Regions from separate parts of the Homo sapiens genome. Here region 1 is linked to region 2. Evidence: fine-mapped expression QTL. A gene starts in region 2. The other region holds a variant in brackets. All regions are shown on one strand. Distances are between the middles of the regions.

What was found. PIP is the estimated chance that this variant, and not a neighbour inherited with it, causes the effect. A credible set is the group of variants that fine-mapping cannot tell apart.
Region 1: its variant is the best candidate, but not a certain one, in a credible set for the expression of ENTR1 in lung (TOPMed, PIP 0.82).

The regions. Positions count from the first base shown.
Region 1 is chr9:136,384,615-136,392,614 of GRCh38, reverse strand. SNAPC4 (small nuclear RNA activating complex polypeptide 4) reads left to right here. Exons shown (of 24, transcript NM_003086.4): 9 at 21-93; 10 at 509-673; 11 at 4,024-4,171; 12 at 4,767-4,873; 13 at 5,036-5,130; 14 at 7,801-7,895. Among named protein-coding and RNA genes, the nearest start is that of SNAPC4, 12 kb to the left of the region's middle. The variant G/A (reference allele first, on the strand shown) is at 4,676.
Region 2 is chr9:136,406,139-136,414,650 of GRCh38, reverse strand. ENTR1 (endosome associated trafficking regulator 1) reads left to right here and starts at 4,037. Exons shown (of 10, transcript NM_001039707.2): 1 at 4,037-4,323; 2 at 4,412-4,561; 3 at 5,584-5,652; 4 at 6,713-6,825; 5 at 7,090-7,506. The coding sequence starts at 4,254. It overlaps PMPCA (peptidase, mitochondrial processing subunit alpha), which reads right to left and starts at 3,993. Exons shown (of 13, transcript NM_015160.3): 1 at 3,912-3,993; 2 at 2,452-2,654; 3 at 2,082-2,161; 4 at 1,759-1,841; 5 at 4-98. The coding sequence starts at 3,982. RefSeq lists enhancers at 3,755-3,804, 3,835-3,924, 4,775-4,934, 7,140-7,728 and silencers at 4,135-4,224, 4,365-4,414.

The DNA.
Region 1 (8,000 bases), 22 kb after region 2:
ACCCTCATCCCTTCCACCAGCCAGCTTCCAGAAGAGGCCTTGCTGGGAAACAGGCTGGACAGCCACGACTGGGAGAAGATTTCCAATATTAACGTAAGTCAGGGGCAGGTCTGAGCCCCAAGCAGCTTGGAGCACAGCTCCCTGTAGCCCGGGTGCAGTTGGAATTGGGTGGTAAGGCCACACCCTCCCTGGCAACAGGTTCTGCTGTGACCCCCCACCCACCCGGGTCAAGCACATGTCCCACAGTCGGGAATGGCGAGTGGACTCACGAGGGCCTTCAGGCTGGTGCACGGCCCTTTCTGAGATGGTCTGGAGGGCTCCCGGCCTTGCATCTGGAGCCAAGTCTACATGTTTGGCTATGCAAGGCCTAGTGAGTTGGACGAAGATTGCGCTTACTTGCAGCCGTGGAAGCCTCCAGCTGGCGGAGAGCAACAGCTCAGCCTGGAGCTGCGTCTAGGGTGCCCCTGGGGTCAGTGGCCTGCAAGGCTGAGTGTCTCTGTCGGTGCAGTTTGAAGGCAGCCGCAGTGCAGAGGAGATCCGGAAGTTCTGGCAGAACTCGGAGCACCCCAGCATCAACAAGCAGGAGTGGAGCAGGGAGGAGGAGGAGCGGCTGCAGGCGATCGCGGCTGCACACGGCCACCTGGAGTGGCAGAAGATTGCAGAGGAGCTGGGGGTAAGGGCCTGGCCTGGACCCCAGGGGCCAGGAGACCTGAGGGCGTGTGGGCCCTATAGCGGGAGGCTGCTGGACGGGTGCGGGGTCCCCAGTGCTCACTCACCGCCAGGTTTCTATGTGTTGCCACCTCCAGGCTGTGGCCCTAGGGAAGGAGCCTGCCCAGCCCTCTCTGCCACTAGGCCATTGCCGCAGCTCCTCTGGGCCTTCCCAGTCCTCCAGGTCTCCCCATGCAGCGGTGCATGCCCAGTTTACCGGAGTTTGTCTCCTTTCTTATTTCTAGTCTTCTTCTGTCTCCATCAGCCTCGGGAGTTTATTCTGTTGATGTTTCTAAAGCGCTTTTTCCTCGTGTGAGTTCTTGCCGCTTTTCTGGTTTCCTGAGTAAGGACTCAGTTCTTTACTGACTTGGGTCTCTTGTCTTGATAACGAGGCTTGTTAGGCCACCCTGAGAGTAGCTTGGCGTGAACTCTTCTTCTCATAGATTTCCAAAGTAGCTCTAGTTTCCATTTTTATTGCCTCTTTGGACCTAGGTGTATCTAGGAGTGTATGTTTCCGTTTTTAAATAGTTGGATTTCTGGGAGTTCTTGTGGTGGTTCTTTATCTGAATTTGATTGGAACATGAACTAGGGGCGAGATGTATAAAATCTCCATTTTTCAAATATATTTTACTTTTTTATGGCAGAGCACCTGATTATAGCAGACCCAGCTAAACTTGCCAAAACTGTTTTTAAGAAAAAGGTATGTTCTCTGTAAGTAGGGCCTACTCTATATCAGCTATTAAATTGAGTTTGCCTTTAAAGATGCTTAATTCTGCCGGGCACAGTGGCTCACCCCTGTAATCCCAGCACTTTGGGAGGCCGAGGCTGGCGGATCACCTGAGGTCGGGAGTTCAAGACCAGCCTGGCCAACATGGAGAAACCCCGTCTCTACTAAAAATACAAAATTAGCCGGGCGTGGTGGCGGGCATCTGTAGTCCCAGCTACTCGGGAGGCTGAGGCAGGAGAATGGCGTGAACCCGGGAGGCGGAGCTTGCGGTGAGCGGACGTCGCGCCACTGCACTCCAGCCTGGGCGACAGCAAGACTCCGTCTCAAAAAAAAAAAAAATAAATAAATAAATACAAATCGGTTTTTCTTCTATGTATATTTTACTGCTACATAGTTTGGTACACATAACTTTTTTTAATCGGGGTCTGCTTTCTTTTTTTCTTTTTTGTTTTTCATATTTTTTGAGTTCAGGGCTGTGTGTGCAGGATGTGCAGTTTGGTTCCGTAGGTGAGCGTGTGCCATGGTGGTTTGTTGCATAGATCAGCCCATCACCCAGGGATTCAGCCCAGCTTGCGTTAGCTCATTAGCTCTTTTTCTTTCCTTTTTTTTTTTTTTTTTTTTTTTTCAAACAGAGTCTCACTCTGTCGCCCAGGCTGGAGTGCAGTGGCACGATCTCAGCTCACCGCAAGCTCCGCCTCCCGGGTTCACGCCATTCTCCTGCCTCAGCCTCCCGAGTAGCTGGGACTACAGGCGCCCACCACCACGCCCGGCTAATTTTTTGTATTTTTAGTAGAGACGGGGTTTCACTGTGTTAGCCAGGATGGTCTCAGTCTCCTGACGTTGTGATCTGCCGGCCTCAGCCTCCCAAAGTGCTGGGATTACAGACGTGAGCCACCGCGCCCGGCCCATCCCTGTATTTTCAGCCTTTTAACAAATCGTCATTTCCAAGTGTTTTCATGAAAGCAGCGTGCAGCTGGGTTTTGCTTTCCCACCCGCCTGACCAGCCTCTGGCTTTGTGGGAGGGTGGGTGTTCCTGGTGTCCTCCTGGGTCTGGTGTGTCGAGTCCGTTTTACTTTGTGGCCTCTTTTCCTTCCACTCTGTCTTGCTGGTTTGATGAAACTGTAAGTCCGGTTTTTCTCCTTGTGATTTTTGGGAATTCAACTGTCTTCCATCCATTAATGGCTTTTTCTCCTTCGAACACATAGTCAGACATGCTTCTCTGTTAATATCAGAAAGCGTGACGCCAGCACTTTCCCCCGCCAGATTCTTTCTCCTTCCAGGGAAGTGTTTTTAGTCACTGTCAAGAAAAGCCAGGCTAAGGCCTCAGCAGCCTCCCTCCAGCTTCACTCCAGCCACCCTCCAGCCCCCTTTGAGAGCTGCTGCTCTCAGCTACCCGAGCAGGGCCCAGCTCTGAATCCCGCCCCACCCCCCAGTCCTTTGCCTTCCCAACTCCTTCGGCAGGCTTGGGATGGGTGTGAGAAGGGTCTCTCTTTCCACTGGTTGGGAAGCGCCAGCTTGAGTGTAGGAGGACGGGTGAGGCCTTGAGTGTGTTATGTTCCCAGAAGCACTCTCTTGGGGGCGTGCGGGCGAGGCTCACACACGTTGACTAGGATTGCCCTGCAGCTTGCACACCCCGGGGTGGTGGTTTTGTTTGTGGTGAACGAGTCTCAGATAGACCTGTGATGTAGCGAGCTGGGAAGGACTTGGTGGGGAAGAAAGCCTTGGAAGCAAAACTCACAGCTCAGCGGCACCACATCCAGCTCTGCGTGCCCTCTGCCACCCAGCAGCTCACTTTCAGAAAAAGCAAACCTCACAGCACGTCCAGCCCCACGCGCCCTCTGCCACCCAGCAGCTCACTTTCAGAAAAAGCAAACCTCAGAGCATATCTAGCCCTGTGTGCCCTGTGCCACCCAGCAGCTCACTTTCAGAGAACAGGGTTCAGGTAGCACTCATCAGCTCTTGGAAAACCCCTTGAGAAGATGAGTGAGGAAAAGATTTGGGCAGATGGTCCACTGTGTGGACTGAGGGTGGGTTTGCTGAGCCGAGCCACACAGGGAAGCTGGGAGAGTCATTTTGGGGCACTCTCTTCTGAGGGCGTCTCCTGAGACATGGACACCAAACCAAGGGCTGTCCCGTACCTCCTCCACCCCATACCCCTTAGCTGAGAGATACTCTAGAGCTCGAGAAGGGAGAGAAGGTGCTAGCAACTGCATTTAGAGAGCATGCCACATGCAGAGCAGTGCGTCTCCCAGCCCTTGCCAAGCTGGGAGTTTCTGTTGAGTGAGTTGCAGTGTGGTTTTGGAGTCATATCAGTTTACCTATTGTGAATTTTTCTTAATATTTTCTTAAGTGAAGGTTTGATTCCTCTCTCACCTGGTCCTTCCTGGTCCTATTTAGTGAGTGTATTGTCTTCCTACCGTGGGGTGCTCTCCATCAGCCCACAGGAGTCTGGGAGGAGGAGAGCTGGGGTCTGCAGAAGGGTCACCCCAGTGGCTCATGGGCCCACCTGTGCCCTGGGGCACTCAGAGCCAGATCTGGACATCCTGCCGCGCAGTAACACTCATTTGCTTTTGTTTGGGCCTGGGAAGACCAGCCGCAGCGCCTTCCAGTGCCTGCAGAAATTCCAGCAGCACAACAAAGCTCTGAAACGCAAGGAGTGGACAGAGGAGGAGGACCGCATGCTCACGCAGCTGGTGCAGGAGATGCGCGTCGGCAGCCACATCCCCTACCGCAGAAGTGAGGCCCCTCCACCCCGACGGCTCTCAGGCTGTCACAGGGCCCCATATCAGGACACTGGAGACTTGCAGGGAAAATTCACAGAGAAGCAACAAGACAGACGAGGGCTTAGACAGTCCTGGCTGTTCCACAGTTCGCTTCTTGGTGACTCAAGTGACTTTTTTTTTTTTTTTTTTGAGATGGAGTTTCACTCTTGTTGCCCAGGATGGAGTGCAACGCCATGATCTTGGCTCACTGCAACCTCTGCCTCCCGGGTTCAAGCGATTCTCGTGCCTCAGCCTCCCAAGTAGCTGGGATTACAGGCATGCGCCACCACGCCCAGCTAATTTTGTATTTTTAGTAGAGACGGGGTTTCACCATGTTGGTCAGGCTGGTCTCGAACTCCTGACCTTAGGTGATCCGCCAGCCTCTGCCTCCCAAAGTGCTGGGATGACAGGCATGATGCCACTGCACCTGGCCAAAGTGATTCTTTTCTATGTGACCCATCTGGAGGGTGGGTGTCTC[G/A]GCCCCACGGGACCCTGTTGTCCCTAGCTGTCTACTCTATGGAGGGTGTGTGTCTCGGCCCCACAGGACCTCCCTGTTCCTCTGTCCCTAGTTGTCTACTATATGGAAGGGAGAGACTCCATGCAGCTGATCTACCGATGGACCAAGAGCTTGGATCCTGGTCTGAAGAAGGGTTACTGGGCCCCGGAGGAAGATGCTGTAAGTGTGCGGGACCCTAGGAGAACTGGGCTCTGGGAAGGTAACGCGGCTGTGTTCAGCGGCTGCTGTGCCCCAGTGGTCCCTTCTCTGACTGGGTTCAGGGTGGGGAGGCTGCAGCCGTACCTGCAGAGGCTTCACTTGTCTGCCTGTCCCTTCCTGCAGAAGTTGCTTCAAGCTGTTGCCAAATACGGGGAGCAGGATTGGTTTAAAATCCGGGAAGAGGTGCCAGGTAGGAGCGATGCCCAGTGCCGAGATCGGTGAGTCGCACAGCGCTGAGCGAGGGAGGGGCCCGTGTGGGTCACTGACCAGGTGCACTCTGGTGTGGGCTGTGGGCGGGCTGGGGGACAGCGGCCAGCGCTGGGCGAGGGAGGGGCCCGTGTGGGTCGCTGACCAGGTGCACTCTGGTGTGGGCTGTGGGCGCTTGCTTGCCAGGGTTGGCCCGGCTGAGCTGTGTTTTCCAAGCCTGACTTCTGTATTGCTGTCTGCCGGAGCAACGCATGGGCTCCACTTGAGACAGCTCCCTGGGCGGCTTTTCCTGACCCTAGTTGTCTCAGTTCTCTCAGAATGCTGATAGGCAGGACCTCTGGGCACACAGCTGCAGCTCCCTCCTTTTCCTGCTTATTTTCCTTTCAAAAACAGCTTCGTTGAGATAATTCACACACCATGCGATGCGTTCATTTAAAGTGTATATTTCCGAAGCTGGGCGCAGTGGCTCACGCCTGTAATCCCAGTACTTTGGGAGGTCAAGGCAGGCGGATCACTTGAGGCCAGGTCAAAACCCCGTCTCTACGAAACCCCATCTCTACTAAAAGCACAAAAGTTACCCGGGCATGGTGGGGGTGGCGCCTGTAATCCCAGCTACTTGGGAGGCTGAGGCAGGAGAATCGCTTGAGCCTGGGAGGTGGATGTTGCAGTAAGCTGAGATCACGCCACAGCACTCCAGCCTGGGTGACAGAGCAAGACTGTCTCAAAAAAATATTAATTAATTAATTAAAATGAAGTGTAGAAGGCCAGGTTCAGTGGCTCACGCCTATAATCCCAACACTTTGGGAGGCCGAGGCCGGCGGATCACCTGAGGTTGGGAGTTTGAGACCAGCCTGACCAACATGGAGAAACCCCGTCTCTACTAAAAATACAAAATTAGCCGGGCGTGGTGGCACATGCCTGTAATCCCAGCTACTCGGGAGGCTGAGGCAGGAGAATCGCTTGAAACTGGGAGGCGGAGGATGCAGTGAGCCGAGATCACGCCATTGCACTCTAGCCTGGGCGACGAGTGAAACTCCGTCTCAAAAAAAAAAAAAAAAAAATGAAGTGTAGAGGTAGAGGTCAGTGGTTTTTAGTATTTAGTATTCATTGAGCTGTGCAGCCATCACCACAATCAATTGTAAAACATTTCATCACCCGAAAAAGCCATTCAACGACAAAAACAACCCAATCTAATCGCGGGCAAAGAACTTGAGTGGCCGTCTCTCCAAAGAAGATGCACAGATGGCCAGTGAGCACATGAAGAGATGCCTGGCGCCATGAGTCATTAGGGAAGTGCAAGTCAAAACCACACACGCGTTGGGATGGCTGTTAATTAAAAAAAAAAAAAAGTCACCGTGTTGGCAAGGATGTCGAGAAATTGAAACCTTTGTGCGTTGTAAAATGGTCCAGCCTCTTTGGAAAGCATGGCAGTTCGTCAGCGAGTTAAACATAGAATTATACCCCCAAGATTGATAAGCATAAAACCCAAAAGAATCGAAAGTAGGAGCTCAGATACAACAATGTCCACAGCAGCATCATTCACAAGAGTGAAAGGCCGGAAGCAGCCCAAGCATTCATCAGCAGATGAGTGGAAAATAAAATTTTCATACAAGGGAATATTATTCGGCCTTAAAAAGGGGTTGGCAGGGCTCGGTGGCTCACGCCTGTAATCCTAGCACTTTGGGAGGCCAAGGCGGACAGATCATGAGGTCAGGAGTTCAAGACCAGCCTGGCCAATATGGTAAAACCCTGTCTCTACTAAAAATACAAAAACTAGCCACACATGGTGGTGGGCACCTGTAATCCCAGCTACTCGGGAGGCTGAGGCAGGAGAATCACTTGAACCTGGGAGTTGGTGGTTGCAGCGAGCTGAGATTGCGCCACTGCACTCCAGCCTGGGCGACAGTGAGCCTCCGTCTCAAAAAAAACAAAAGGGGGGGGAGTGGGATTCTCATATAAATACCGCGTTTCTGTAAATTCTGATACAACATGGATGAACCCTGAAAACATTCTGAACATTTGCTTGCACTTTTTTACATAGATATCTGTTTATTTCTCTCAGCTATATCCTGCGAGTGAAATTGCTCGGTCCGGGTAACGCTGTGTTTAACCTTTTGAGGAATGGCCAGACTGTTTCCCAAAGAGGTTGAACCATTTCGTATTCCCACTAGGAATGTATGAGGGCTCCGGTTTTCCACACTCTCACCAGCACTTGTGATCTGTCTGTGATTCTAGCCATCTTAGCGGGTGTGAAGTGGTGTCTTGTGGTTTTGACGTGCGCTTCCCTGTGGCTGATGTGGAGCCTCTTTTCATGTGGTTGGTGACTGTTCATAGAAATAGGTTTTTAGAGAAGTGTCTGTTGAAGTCCTTTGCCCATTTTTGACATTACTTGTCTAGTTATGACTGACTTGTAAGAGTTCTTCATATGTTTCAGATATAAGTCCTTTATCGGACACGTGACTTGCAAACGTTCTCTCCCAGCCTGTACACTTTCTACTTTTTTGATGGTGTCCTTTGGGACACAAAAGCTTTAGCTTTTGATGAAGTCTACTTTATCTGTAGTTTTCTTTTGTTGCTTGCGCCTTTAGTGTCATATCCAAGAAACCATTAAAGAAGCTTGGGGCAGCAGCGGGCGGCGTCTCGGCATCTAAAACGTTCTTTGCTTTTCATGTCACGTTCAGGTATCTCAGGAGATTACATTTCAGCTTGAAAAAGGGTCGGTGGAATTTAAAAGAAGAGGAACAGTTAATTGAATTAATAGAAAAATATGGTGTCGGTAAGTTGCTGACAGTTTGTTCTTCTAGTTTCTTTTTTTTGTTTTTTGTTTCTTAGAAAAGAGATCAAGATAAAGACAGAGCAAGCTCTGTCGTCCAGGCTGGGG
Region 2 (8,512 bases):
CACCTGTTAGCCGGGGCTGCAGAACCACATCAGCCAGTAAGGCAACCACCGTGTCCAAGCCTTTGCTATCAGCAGACACAGCATACATGGTGGTGTCTCTGGAAGAAAACACAAGCCCATAATGCCAGGCCCTGAACTCACACTCTGCTTAACAGCCAGGGGACGCTCGGGCTTTGCGTGCCAGGTGGACAATGCCAGGCCCTGAGCTCACACTCTGCTCAACAGCCAGGGGACACTTGGGCTTTGCATGCCAGGGGCACCTACCTTTTGTTGGGGCCCAGCAGACATTTCAGGGACGCTTGGGCTTTGCGTGCCAGGGGACACCTCCTACCCTTCATCGGGGAACAGCAGACACTTTTCCCCTTTCTCTTTTCCTGTCTTACAGTGTGAATGCTTGGTAGGCAGGACTCACAGCTACACACAGCTTGAGTCAAAATGGAGCCACTTCTGATACAGATTTTTGTAACTATACTCTCTCTCAAAAGGTGAAGTGTTTCATCCCAGCCTCCTGTTGACTGAACGAACCCACTGGTGAGTGTGGAAACATGCCCGGCCTTGGCTGGCTTGGGGGACAGCAATGGCTGGCTCGTATGGAGCTTGTCTCACTGTAACATCTGTTCCCGGCATGAGGCACTGCACAGTCAGAAGTGCACAGAGCTGGCCCATGGGACAGGCACGAAATCATGGGGTGCTCTGAGATCAAGTGTGATCAAGGGAGACCATGCAGAGCAGACGCAACAGCCACGAAGAAGAGGGAGCTTGGGAGGCAGGACGCAGTCACCAGTGCCTCTGAAGAGGGGACTTGGCTGGACCTTCACCCTGAAGAGGAGCCATTCTCAGTGACTTTGGCTCTCCACATGGGGAGAATGGCAAGAACAAAAGCCTGAGCTGAGGGCGAGGGGGGCTGGGTCTGAGTCAGGACACCAGCCACCTGGCCAGAGAAAGGAGTTCATCTGGGATGAGTGAGATTCGAGGCAAGAGTCGGAGAATCAAACACACCAGGCAGGAACCTGGCAGGGGCAGCTGGGAGTCAGGGGGTATTAAGAGGCCTTGTTTTAGAACATGAATATGTTACCTCCAAGCTAACTTTAATTCTTAGCATTTAATGTGTCTTTTATGTGTAATTTTTTTAGCATTCAAACTTAAATCAACAATTTTAAAAATCTGTGATCTATATTCACCCATCTCACATTGCCCAGTGCTTTCTGAACAAGCTCCACACCTGGCATGCAAAGACCACTGCACTGTGCTCGAGGCAACACTGCCCCCTCCCTCCACCAAGCAGCCGGCACCTCCCTGGCTCGGTGCCTTTTGCCCCTGCTGTCTCCTGGTCTGGAATGCCTTGTGCCCCGTGTGTCTAGCAAACTCCTTCTGGAACCAGCCCAACCCTGCATTTCCTATGATTCCTTTCCCAACTCCAGACCAAGTCAGCCACTCATCCTCCTGGCTCCTACCGCCTTTGGCTACGGGGTCCATTACGTATGCAAGGCCCTCTGCTCTATCTGGGAACAGGGCCTGCTCTACATCCCTGGCATGCAGCCAACAGCCTGGAGGAACTGACGGGGGTCAACTGAGCTCCTGGGGGCTGTGCTTCTCTGTGTAAGCGCCATCCACCCAAGTCTCCATCCAGGACAGGGCTCCTTCTCCCCGTGAATCTCCACACCTCCCGCTGGGAGGGGCTCAGAGGGAATCTGAGCAACGACAAGAACGTCAGTTCCCAAGGACCCAAAGTCAGTTTGTACACAAAAGCTGGTGTACCTTGATGTCTGGCAGTCACAGATACCCCCATGCTTTTCCAACGTAAGCAGAATTTCATCTTTGCTGTCAAATCGAGCAGTAGACTAGTAAAAATAAATAAGGAAACCTAAATAAGCAATCCAGGCTATCCCTGAAACACAATTTTTTTTTAAAATCTACTTTTGCTTTTAACACACATACAAAAATTATCTTTTAACTTAAAAGTCTTTTATTAACATTAACTTAGCAACTTGATAATTTATTAAAATAACCATTATAGACAAGAAAAATCTCAAACATCCTTCAAAAGTATAGTCTAAAAAATTACAAAACTGGGTACTGACCGAAAATGCCAATTTTTCCAAAAAGTGAGCAATTCCACTAAGGTATTTCGCTTCATATCTCGATCCTGAATTGATAAGAACTAGTAGTAAAAAGAAAATTGACAGGTTACATCAGATATTCAAAATAAGATTTAATCAAGAGAAACATTTTAAGATGTCAATATGACATGATAATCAGATTTAATTACATGAGGGTGATTGTGCTGATGGTTTCACAGGTATATGTGTAGCTCAACATTTATGAAATCGTACACTTTGTTTCCACTCAGGGTACAATTCATAATTGGCATGCTAATTACAACTAACAGTCAACTAAAGCATGTGCATGTTAAAACTGCGGGACCACCCACGACAACACAACAGTACTTACTTCCTACTGTACAAAACTGTCCAAACTTATTCTGAGATGCCACGCGAAGCCCATTATCCAATGTGGTTACTTTGGTTTCAAACTTTTCCTGTCCATCAACTGTAGCAAAAACAGGCTTGGGTACTCCAGGTAAGGGAGAAGAGAGGGGGATGTTGGGATAGGCACCACCACTACTAAACCGTCTGTACGCAGGAGGTCCAAACCTAAAACAGAGAAAGCGGCCCAGTTACAACAGGCTTGAGACAACAAACCTGTGATGACCTGTTAGGTGCGGTTAGTTATGTTTTGTCTGGGTTAAAAGTGAGCATCTGCCTTTCTACAGGACTTATTTCTACAGACTTTGGAAGACAAAGCAGAGGCTGACAACAAAGGCTCAGCCACGGGACCTGGAGCAAGCTGGTTCCGTCCTTTGGGTCTTAGTTGCTATCTCTGTAAAAACAGGGCTTATTAACAGTAACTCACTCTAAGTGCAGTTTGTACACATAAAGCACTTAACAGCTCTGCCCTCCAACAGCACCACCGAAGTCTTGGATAAAAGCCATATCCCTTATTAACCTGGTCCGAAGGCGGGGTGTGACTTGGCCTCTGTCTCCCTCTCCAAACTCATCTCTTGAACCCCCACACTCCCATAGGTCCTGGTCACACTGATTCTTGTCAATTCCTGGAACACATTTGACTCATCAACCCCAAAGCTTCTTCACCGTTCCAGGGCTTGCCCTTTGCCCATGCCTACCCCTTCTTTCATTCTTCAGCTCTTCCCTTAAATGTCACCCTGATGGAGGACTATCCCTCACCAGTCTAGTCTTTCCTGCTATTTTCTATCATGAAAGGCTGCTTGTTTACTCCAAAGCATTTACGCGACTGCCGATATTTTGTTTACGCTCCAGCCTGTATCCATCTCCTGGAGGCAGCACCTCCGCACCCCTGAAACGGCGCTCGTTGTGTGGGGAGGGGCGACGCCTGTGCTGTCGGAACAAAGTTCCAGCGTGGGGAAAGGCAGGCCCGGTCACTTGGGTGGGAGGAGCGGTGGGTACGGAAAGGGTTCTTAAACGTCAGAGATCAACGGACAGACCGCAGCAACCGAGAGCCTGGACCCTGGTGTCAGAACCCTGCGGGTCTAACAGAGCTGGGCCCCCACCGGCTCAGCCTCCTGAAGGAGCACGCGGTAGGTGAAGCGCGGGGGCAAATATGAGGCATGGCCTCGGAGAAGGCCCGTCGACCCGGGAAGTGAGGGGGGGAGAGGACCCAGCAGCCGGGGAGAGGAGAGACAGATGGGACTGCGTCCCCGGGCTCGAGGCGCAAAGCAAGGCAGGGCCCCCGTCGCCTCGGGGACACCAGTGTCCCGAAGTGCGAGCCCGTCCCACGGGCGCCATGTCACCTGTAGAAACCGAAGACGGAGCGTCCAGAAAGACTCGAGCCGCCCCCGCCCCAGGCCGAAGCCTGGTTCGCCTTTGGCTCACCTCAGCCGCGAACAGCCCCAAGAACCCGAGCCCCGCAGCAACCGCGTCGCCGCCAGCACCACAGCCGCCATCTTGCGTCTCCGCCCCGCTTCAGTCGTCACTTCCGCTTCCGCCCACGGCTTCCCCTCCCCCTCGCCGACGGCCCAAGGCGTTCAGGCACGCGCTTTCGGTGCTCGGAGCGGAAGCAGCGGCGAGAGGCTCGGAGGCGCGGGGGCGGCCGAGCGGCGGGCGACGGGGGCGGGCGACGGGGGCGGGCGACGCGGGCCGCGGCACGGGCGGAGCCGGGGCCATGGAGCCGCCGCTGCCGGGCTAGGCAGGTCGTGCCCCGCCGGGCCGGCGGCGATGTCGGGCTACCAGCGCCGCCCGGGCGCCACCCCGCTGTCCCGAGCCCGGAGCCTCGCCATTCCCGACGGTGAGCGGGGCAGGGGCCGAGTCCAGCGGTCCAGGTGGGCGGCGGCCGCCCCGGCACGCAGTAAAGTCGCTGTTGTCGTTGCTTCCAGCTCCAGCGTTCTATGAGCGCCGGTCTTGTCTCCCCCAGCTAAATTGTGAGCGCCCCCATGGCAGGGACCTGGACTCCCCCTTCTTCGGCATTCGGCCGGCCTTTATGTGCTATGTGCCCAGCCCGGTGCTGGCTTCCGTGGGAGACACAGGTGAGAGACGAGGGCGCCGGCCCCGGGGACGCTTCCAGTTCCCGCGCCACGTGTGGCACCTCCGCTGCAGCACGAGCTCGTCCATTGACCCATCAATGTGCAGAGCGCTCACTGCGTGCCAGGCACTCGGAATTCAAAGGCGGAGTCCCCTGCTAGGAGCTCACAGTCTGGTTGCGGGGAGACCTCCCCCAAGACAGACAGTTCCAGTACAGGATGGTTAGTGCCCGGGGAGCACAGGAGCCCGCCCGCTTTCCTCGTGGGGCTGGAGTCGGGGTGCCTTCACCTAGTGGGCAGTGATTGGAAACCGAGCTGGAGCATTCCATCTGCCTCCACAGCCGGGCAGTGGCCAGATCTGGTTCGTCCTCGTTCTACCCAAGCAGAAGTGCTGCTGGGTGCCCGGGGTGTGCAGGAGTGTTTGTGTGGTTATGCCAGGATCTGAGGACATTCGGGGGTTGTCACAAGACAAGAGGACGCGCTTGCCCCGGCTGGGCTTCAAAATCTGCTGAGGAGCCGCTTTCAGACCACGGACACCAGGGCCAGTCTGCAAGTCAGGCCATCTCCAGGGTCACAAGTCTGGGAGCTTGTGTTTTTTTTAAAGTTTTCTCGGCTGACCGGGCGCAGTGGCTTACGCCTGTAATCCCAGCACTTTGGGAGGCCGAGGCAGGCGGATCATGAGGTCAGGAGATTGAGACCATCCTGGCTAACAGGGTGAAAACCCGTCTCTACAAAAAATACAAAAAAATTAGCCGGGCGTGGTGGCAGGTGCCTGTAGTCCCAGCTACTCGGGAGGATGAGGCAGGAGAATGGCGTGAACCCAGGAGGCGGAGCTTGCAGGGAGCCGAGATCGCACCACTGCACTCCAGCTTGGGCGACAGAGCAAGACTCCGTCTCAAAAAAAAAAAAAAAGTTCTCTAGACTGTGAGAACCACTGCAGTGGAGACTCCATGTGCAAAAGAAAAAAACCAAATGTGAGGTCATAAAGACTTCCTGCCAGCATGGTGGGTGACATTGTTTCTTTGCAGATTTTGGCTATGGAAAGGGGAAATGTTCTAAGCAGAGCCCGTCAGGAGCCCACGGGACACATTTTGGAGGTAGAGTAGTTCAGCAACCTTTTCTTCTTGTCTCCATCCAACACAGTGCCAGGCACGTGTCTGGTGGGACTGTCAATGTGACTGGCTATGTGGTGTAGCTGGAGCCCAAAAGAGCAGGTGGGGGTGGGATTTCAAGGGTTCAGTCTTGATCCTAGAGTAGCAGCGAGGTGACATCAGGGAGCGGGGAAGCCCCACCTGGGGGGCTGGGGCCACAGGAGCCAGCTTTACATGGGGCTCACAGCTGGGAGGGTCGAGTGTGGCTGCTTAAGTCCCCGGAGGGTGGGAAGGCGGTGGCAAGAGGGAGAAGGGAAAAGTGGGCGTTATTTAGGCTACCTAGGTAGGAAAGTCGGGAAGAGGGTCAGGGGGCACTGGGTCCCCAGCGTTGCAGCACCTGAGGAGCTGGTTGTTGTTGTTGTTTTTTGAGACAGAGTCTCGCTCTGTCGCCCAGGCTGGAGTACAGTGGCACGATCTCGGCTCACTGCAAGCTCCACCTCCCAGGTTCACGCCATTCTCCTGCCTCAGCCTCCCGAGTAGCTGGGACTACAGGCGCTCACCACCACGCCTGGCTAATTTTTTGTATTTTTAGTAGAGATGAGGTTTCACCGTGTTAGCCAGGATGGTCTCAGTCTCCTGACCTCGTGATCCGCCCGCCTTGACCTCCCACAGTGCTGGGGTACAGGCGTGAGCCACCACACCTGGCCACCTGAGGAGCTTTGAGAGCTCCTAGCACAGGTTGACCTCACACCAGGGAGCTGGGTGTGTGCAGTGGAGTGGCTTGGGTCGTTTTAAAGCTCCCCAGGGGAGCTTTAGTGAGCAGCACAGTGTGGGAGCAGGGGCCGAGGGGTGGAAGGAGAAGATTGCAAATGCAGACGCACGTCTGTGTCACTGCCCACCTTCAGCCACCTTCACACTTCCTAGTGCTGCCTGAGTCATGGTAGAATGACAAGCGTGGCTGCCCGATCTCACATGTGGCCATGCTCTGGAAAGACAGGTGAACAGGAAGGTTCCCTTTCAACGCTCTTCAGTAGACTTTATGCATTTGTGATGTCTGTTATTTCAGATGACAGATTTGAAGATCTGGAAGAGGCAAATCCATTCTCTTTTAGAGAGTTTCTGAAGACCAAGAACCTCGGCCTCTCGAAAGAGGATCCGGCCAGCAGAATTTATGCAAAGGTAAATCCACGGCACTGTGGGCGATGGCTCTGTGGGACGTTTCTGTTCCGGCCTCTGCAGCCTCCTTTGGAGGAATCGTGCATGAGTGTGGCAGAGCAGGCAGGCGTCAGTGCTGGGGAGCAGCTCTGGGCTCAGAAGCTGCTGGGCTCCTTCCGGTAGAGAGATTGGGCCTTTCTTCTTGTTGCGAGGCAGAACACAGAAAGGAAGATGCGCTCCGAGTCAGAAGCATGGCCTCCATTGTTTTTTTTTTTTTTTTTTTTTTAGGAAGCCTCGAGGCATTCCCTGGGACTTGACCACAACTCCCCACCCTCCCAAACCGGCGGGTATGGCCTGGAGTATCAGCAGCCATTTTTCGAGGATCCGACAGGGGCTGGTGACCTCCTGGATGAGGAGGAGGATGAGGACACCGGATGGAGTGGGGCCTACCTGCCGTCCGCCATCGAGCAGACTCACCCCGAGAGGGTCCCTGCCGGCACGTCGCCCTGCAGCACATACCTTTCCTTTTTCTCCACCCCGTCGGAGCTGGCAGGGCCTGAGTCTCTGCCCTCGTGGGCGTTGAGTGACACTGATTCTCGCGTGTCTCCGGCCTCTCCGGCAGGGAGTCCTAGCGCAGACTTTGCGGTTCATGGAGAGTCTCTGGGAGACAGGCACCTGCGGACGCTGCAGATAAGTTACGACGCAGTAAGTGAGCCTCACGGCGCCCTCTGGCACAGCGCCTGTCCGAGCGGCTTCTCCCGGGGAGAACCTGGAGCCATCCTACCTCTTGGGTGGCCTGGTTTGATTTCCAGGACAAGGCGATTTGCGTGACAGCCTGCTATCCACTTTCCCTTTGACTTTGCTTCTGGTTACACGTGGGAATAGAACCGGCTAAAGAGGACTGGTGAGCTAGAAGCTGTGAATTGGATGCAGTTGGGCACTTACAGGGCTGTACCCTCAGTAAAGGCAGGCTGCAGTCGCCAGCTTGCTAAGTATTCCAAGAGGAGGAAAATTTTTAAAAAATTATAATCACCTAAAAGGTTATAAGCTCTGAATAAAAAAAAAAATTTTTTAGCTGGGCGCCGTGGCTCACGCCTGTAATCTCAGCACTTTGGGAGGCCGAGGTGGGTGGATCACCTGAGGTCAGCAGTTTGAGACCAGCCTGGCCAACATGGTGAAACCCTGTCTCTACTGAAAATACAAAAATTAGCTGGGCGTGGCGGCAGGCGCCTGTAGTCCCAGCTACTTGGGAGGCTGAGGCAGGAGAATCGCTTGAACCCGGGAGGCGGAGGTTGCGGTGAGCCGAGGTCACGCCACTGTACTCCAGCCTAGGCGACGGGCGAAACTCTGTTTCAAAAAAAAGAAAAATTATTTTCTTCCTGAGACAGTGTCTCACTCTGTTGCTCATGCTGGAGTGGAGTGGCACGATCTCGGCTCACTGCAACCTCCGCCTCCCGAGTTCAAGTGATTCTCCTGCTTCAGCCACCCGAGTAGTTAGGACTACAGGTGCCCGCCACCACTGCTGGCTAATTTTTGTATTTTTAGTAGAGACGGGGGTTTCACCGTGTTGGCCAGGCTGGTCTCAAACTCCTGACCTTGTGATCCGCCCACCTCGGCCTCCCAAAGTGCTGGGATTACAGGCGCGAGCCACTGCCCCCGGCCTCTGAGTAAAATTAACTGGCATCTGTGACCACAGGTCTTTGAAAAGTGC